Linked DNA regions of Homo sapiens. The main gene of each other region encodes a partner of the protein of the gene in region 2 in a complex. Each region holds a gene or a part of one and is shown on either strand. Other genes may lie near its edges. The genes, in order: TMEM67 and MKS1.

What was found.
Region 1: MKS1 (region 2) and TMEM67 share a complex: the UniProt entries of both Homo sapiens proteins name them as parts of the tectonic-like complex.

Annotation. Positions count from the first base shown.
Region 1 is NC_000008.11:93,796,238-93,799,893, forward strand, and holds part of TMEM67 (meckelin isoform 1 precursor), read left to right. Parts: intron 1-896; coding exon 897-996; intron 997-1,093; coding exon 1,094-1,233; intron 1,234-3,380; coding exon 3,381-3,521; intron 3,522-3,656. UniProt on the Homo sapiens protein: Required for ciliary structure and function. Part of the tectonic-like complex which is required for tissue-specific ciliogenesis and may regulate ciliary membrane composition.
Region 2 is NC_000017.11:58,207,099-58,209,758, forward strand, and holds part of MKS1 (tectonic-like complex member MKS1), read right to left. Parts: intron 1,486-2,660; coding exon 1,415-1,485; exon of another isoform or gene 1,410-1,414; intron 1,077-1,409; coding exon 1,007-1,076; intron 904-1,006; coding exon 796-903; intron 632-795; coding exon of another isoform or gene 606-631; exon of another isoform or gene 463-605; intron 121-462; coding exon 1-120. UniProt on the Homo sapiens protein: Component of the tectonic-like complex, a complex localized at the transition zone of primary cilia and acting as a barrier that prevents diffusion of transmembrane proteins between the cilia and plasma membranes.

The DNA.
Region 1 (3,656 bases), on a different chromosome or scaffold from region 2:
TATAACTTTCTTTAAAGTCTGATGATACATTCACAATGGGACAAAATGTCTTCAGGCATGAATTTTGTCTCCATTAATCAAGGGTAAAAGGTACCACTCTGGATAAAGTGTTGAGATCTTAAAAGTTGTTTTGTCTGTCTCCAGATTCCTTTGCTCCTTTCTTCCTATGGCCCCCCAATCCCCAACTCAGTGTTCTCCATCAATGTAGGTGAATCTCTTTATATGCCTGTTGGTAGTCCTTATCCTATTTTACTGTGAGTGTTAAGTGTCTGCTTTTTCCACTGACTGGGAGCTTCTTGAGGTGAAGTATCTCATACTTAGATTTTTATCCTTTATTTGATGAATAATGCAGCAACTAGAAAGAATGCCTCAGTTTAAACATATTGCTTGTATAAATAAGAAAGATGTGTTTCAACAGCACATTCTTTAAAAATCAGAAATCTGAATAGCAGAAATAGAAAAAAAAGACAGTAAGAGCATTCGAAAACTTTAATTAGGAAAAACAAACTATAGTTGAAAATATCTTTACTTATAAAGAAGTCAGCTGATCTACAAAACAAAGTGTGCTTCTAGAATCTTTGGGAAAGAGTCAATTATATAAGTCCCTATGTGAGGAGGAGGAAAAATGTCTCCTCTTTTCATATTCCTATTTTAAAGAAAGAAAGAAAAAGGGAAGGTAAATTAAGATGTATATGAAAATTCTGTGAATTTGATGATTCCAGGTTATCTGATGAGCTTCTAATGATTCCTTAGTGGTATTATAACTTCATGTGAATTCACTCATAAAATTATATGTTCTTGTGATAACAGTATGTTTCTTAAAGAGTCAATATTGGTTTTATAAGCAGACTTAACGCTGGTACTTTTTCAGGTGTTTTATTATATGTCATTCTCAGGCACTACAATTTTTGCATAAGCTCATATCCCAGATTACAATAGATGTATTCTTTATTGATTGGGAGCGACCTAAAGGAAAGGTTCTTAAAGCTGTTGAAGGTAACTGAAATAAAAAATATTTGTACCAAAATTCTTTTGCTACCCTTGCAGAGCAAAGGAGGTAAAACTCTTTTACTCATTTTATTTTCCTGACCAGGTGAGGGTGGTGTACGAAGTGCCACTGTTCCTGTAAGCATATGGAGAACATATTTTGTAGCAAATGAATGGAATGAAATTCAGACTGTGAGAAAAATTAATTCACTCTTTCAAGTACTTACTGTCCTCTTCTTTTTGGAGGTATAAACTGTTTGATGTGATTATATGCGACTTACATGTACCTTATAAATATTAAACTAATATAATTCCAACTAAGTTTTCATGACAGTGGAAGATTTCTCTAAAGGTTGAAATATTGTTGTGAAGCCATTAAAAAGGAGTACCTTTATGTTACGTATTTTACCACAATTCTTTTTTTAAGTTTACCATCTTAAGCATTTTTAAGTGTAGAGTTTAATAGTGTTAAGTTGGCCAGGCACAGTGGCTCATGCCTGTAATCCCAACACTTTGGGAGGCTGAGGCAGGCGGATCACCTGAGGTTGGAAGTTCAAGACCAGCCTGGCCAACATGGAGAAACCCCGTCTCTACCAAAAAATACAAAATTAGCTGGGCATGGCGGCACATGCCTATAATCCCAGCTGCTCGGGAGGCTGAGGCAGGAGAATTGCTTGAACCCGGGAGGCGGAGGTTACAGTGAGCCGAGATTGCACCATTGAACTCCAGCCTGGGCAGAAAGAGCAAAACTCCATCTCAGAAAAAAACAAACAAACAAAAAGTAGTGTTACGTACATTCACATTGCCACGCAAAATCATCATCACCATTCATCTTAGAACTCTTCATCTTGCAAAACTGAAACTCTATACCCCTTAAACAACTCTGTACCCATTCCCTGCTACACCTAACCCCAGGCAACCACCATTCTATAATACTTTCTGTCTCTGTGTGTTTGACTGCTCTAGGTGTAAGGAGTAGCTTTAAAACCACTGGTTTGTATCAGAATCCCTTGGGGATCTTTTGTAAAATACCTATGCTCAGGCTCACCCTTAGAGACTATGTGTTGATTTAGTAGCTTTGAGGTAACTCCAGGTATCTATATTTTGAAAAAGCTCCCTACCCCCGATCCATATTCTCCCCTGCATTAGAATCACTATTATAAGTTTGATATTTTTCAACAAATTTGTATTGAACACTTACTGTAGACTATGTTCTGTGCTAAGAGCTGGGGCTACACTGAACAAAACACAACATGTTTGTGATACATATGCAGTTATTTCATGGATTTGGTTGGAATTATTAAAGGAAGTATTCAGTACTGAGTATAAGACTGAACATGGAAACAGTTTATATGGGAATAGGTTTTCTCAGGAATTATCTGCTTAATTAAGATTGAATATAAATCATTAACTCTTAGGTCTGTCTGTCTGCCTTCCCTCTTTTTTCTTCTTTCTTTCCATTCTCTTTCCCCTTTCCCTTCCTTTCCTTTTATAAAACTAGTAGAAGAATGTTTGTATCCCTAGGGCTTTAAAATAATATGAACAAGACTTCCAAAGTTCACTTGAAGTGGTATTTTGGTTTTTCTTAAATGGACAGATAAAAATTACATATGTTTATAGTTTACAATACAGTGTTTTGATATATGTATTCATTGTGGAATGGCTAAATCAAGCTAGTTTATCTGTTACCTCACATCTTTTCTTTTTGTACTAAAGTAGTGTGTGTGTGTGTGTGTGTGTGTGTGTGTGTGTGTGTGTGTTTAAGAGTTTCCTCAGCTTTAAAAGGTGTTATGTGAAAAAGTTTTATGGTCAAGTAAGTTTGGAAAATATTGGATTCAGTATAATCATGTAGCACCTTTTACTGTAAAACTTCTCAGAGCCTTTATTCTACAAGGGTGGGAGGCATGGAGGTGAGTGTAATGGATGGACCAAAAGTATTTAAACATAGATTCTTTTTTCAAGAACTTATGTCCTTTAGAAGACATTTTGTAATATACTGTTTTAAAGTATAAAAATGTTTAGTACAGTGCCTGGCACATGTCAAATACTCATGAAATACTACTTGTTGGTTTCACTCATTGGTAGTTTACTGATGAAAGTTTTATCCTTTTAATTAAATTTTTAGTCTTGTCAGTGTGTATGACAATAAGGTTATATTTGGCCCTTAGTCATATTGAGAAGAATGCCAAATGAGCTAACTAAATATTGTGTAATAAATACTTTGTAGTTAAAATACTATATAATAATTATTTTTATCTAGATTTTCTACTGTTTATACAAACTTAGATATTTTAGTTTTTCAAGGTGAGTAGGGAGAGGTTTTCTGTTTTCAGTCTAGAGTAGTTTTCTTTATCCATGTCCGTTTAAATTACTACTTTTCCTTTTTACTCCAGGTTGTGGGATTCAAGAACTTAGCATTAATGGACTCATCTTCTAGTCTTTCTAGAAACCCACCTAGCTACATAGCTCCTTATAGCTGCATTTTGAGATATGCAGTGTCTGCTGCTCTTTGGCTAGCCATTGGAATTATACAGGTAAGGAATTATACAGGTAATATTACTTCTAAGTAACATTGCTTCTTTATAACTCTGCCTAATTACTGATTATCATCAAATATTGACCACATCCTTCTTTCTGTAGCAGAAAGAAGGTGACAAGAACAATAGCTA
Region 2 (2,660 bases):
GTATCCGTACATAGGAGAGGTCCTCCAGTTCCAGAGAACCGCCAATGAAAAACCTCCTCAGCTCAGCCACCGTGCCAAGCTCCACAGGTCTCCACGTGGAGACTGTCAGGGTGTGTGAGCCTGCGCAAGGGAAGAGAAGACTGGGGCCAGGTCCAGAAAGGGCATGTGGCCCCTCACTGACTCCCCAGCAATGACACAGGCCTAGACTCAGCTAAAACACCTGGTCTGGTGATGACCTGGCCTCTGGTGCAGGTTATCATGGTTACCCATAGCACCTGTATGGAAATCAATCAGGGAGAAATTCAAATTTCCGCTCTGCCAGTTATTACCTGCATACCCAGGACAGGTTTCTTAACCTCTCTGAAGCTCATTCTCCTCATCTAGTAAAATGGAAATAATACCACCTGCACCTCACAGAGTGACTGGGAGAATTAAGTGAGAAGTATGGCACAATGCCTGGCACACAGTAAAAGACAGATGCTTTTATTCCAAACTGAATGCTGATTCATTCAATACACATATGCTATGAGCCAATTTTGCCATACAGCTTCTCACCCTGAGTCCAATCAGAGGAGCATGAAGCACATGGAGAGACTGTCAGGAAGTCAGTGCCAAGGCCACGTCATTGTCGCTAATGGAGGGGGGCAGAAAGTCCTCAGAGGAACAGGAACTCTTTCAAGCCAAACATTTCCAATTCCCAATTATCTCCACCCCTCACCAGAAGCATTCGAGTGTTAGTCTTGTTCTTAGGGCCTAGGGCATGTGGGCCACAGAAGGGCAGAGACGAGCGGTTACCTGGAGTGGCAGGCAGCACCACAGCCCCATAGCCTTCCACACGGTACCTCTGCCAGAAGTCCAGCGAGAGGACCTCACAGTAGAGCACAGGCCACTCCGGGAGTGCATCTGGGAGCAAGGAGAGAAGCGGCCAGGTCACAGGCGGCCTTCACCAAGAGACAGCACTGCTTGAGGGGAACCAAGGCCCAGGATCAACTGCTGAGCTACTCACCAGAAGATTCATCCTCATGGAGGAAGAAGGCTTCAAACGTGAATGGGTAGGAGAAGTGAGCCACCTTGTCCTATAAAAAGGAGTGTCATAGGGTGGGCAAGGCCTCCCTTGGAATCTGTTCTCCTTGTGGCCAATGACAAGGTTATCTTCACAAGGGAAAAAGAAAAATTATCACCCAGGTGGGAAATAGGAGTCTGAGATGCAAAAGGACACCCAAATACAAGCTGCTGCCATGCTCAAAAAGACAGACAGGATCTCCGGACCAGGTGGCCCTGTAGAACCCACACACAAGTCACCCAACTCTGGAATCCTCCCCAGGGCGCACAGCACTTGGCCTGATAAAACCTCAAATGCCATCCCAGGAGCAGATCTCATTCCCTTCCAGATACCCGCTCTCATTCTCCATACCATTGCCAGGGACTTGGTGGTGCAGGTCTGTGTTACTCCTGAGAGCTGCTGGAATGCTGGGCTTGACCAGTCTGAAAGCCAAAGACCAAATATAGTAAGCTCGCCTGGGAGGAAAGCAAGTCATTCAGAAAAAGACAGTTTCTTTTTTCTTTTCTTTTTTTTTTTTGTATTTATTGATCATTCTTGGGTGTTTCTCGGAGAGGGGGATGTGGCAGGGTCATAGGATAATAGTGGAGAGAAGGTCAGCAGATAAACACGTGAACAAAGGTCTCTGGTTCTCCTAGGCAGAGGTCCCTGCGGCCTTCCACAGTGTTTGTGTCCCTGGGTACTTGAGATTAGGGAGTGGTGATGACTCTTAAGGAGCATGCTGCCTTCAAGCACCTGTTTAACAAAGCACATCTTGCACCGCCCTTAATCCATTTAACCTTGAGTTGACACAGCACATGTTTCAGAGAGCACGGGGTTGGGGGTAAGGTTATAGATTAACAGCATCCCAAGGCAGAAGAATTTTTCTTAGTACAGAACAAAATGGAGTCTCCTATGTCTACTTCTTTCTACACAGACACAGTAACAATCTGATCTCTCTTTCTTTTCCCCACATTTCCCCCTTTTCTTTTTGACAAAACCGCCATCGTCATCATGGCCCATTCTCAATGGTCGCTGTCTCTTCGGAGCTGTTGGGTACACCTCCCAGATGGGGCGGCCGGGCAGAGGCGCTCCTCACTTCCCAGACGGGGCGGACAGTTTCTTTATTCATTTATTCACACAATCAATCATTCATTTACCATTTACTGAGTGCCTGCTATGTGCTAGTATATCTTAGGGGTATCTTGGTAACTAGATAGAAAAGATCCCCATCTCTCATGGAGCTGACATTCTGGGGGAAGCAGGGAGACAGACAAAAACCAAACCAACAAGAGACTATTGGGTAGTGATGAGTGCTATACTAAAAACAAAACGGGGAAGGGACTGAGTGATTGGGAGGCTCATTTAGACTGGGTGGTAAGAGAAGGCCTCTCAGAGGCGACACAGGCTGAGACCTAAACTCAGAAAGAACCAGCCATGCTAAGATATGGCAGAAAGGGTTTCAGACAAAGGAAACGGCCCTTAAAAGGCTACAAGGTGGGAATGAACCTGGCTGGGAAGAATGACTGGAAGGTTGTATGGAAGAGATAGGCAGGGGCCAGCTCATTCAGGGTATCAAGTTTACATTTTACTCTAAGTGGGAGGGGAAGCTGTTGGGGTT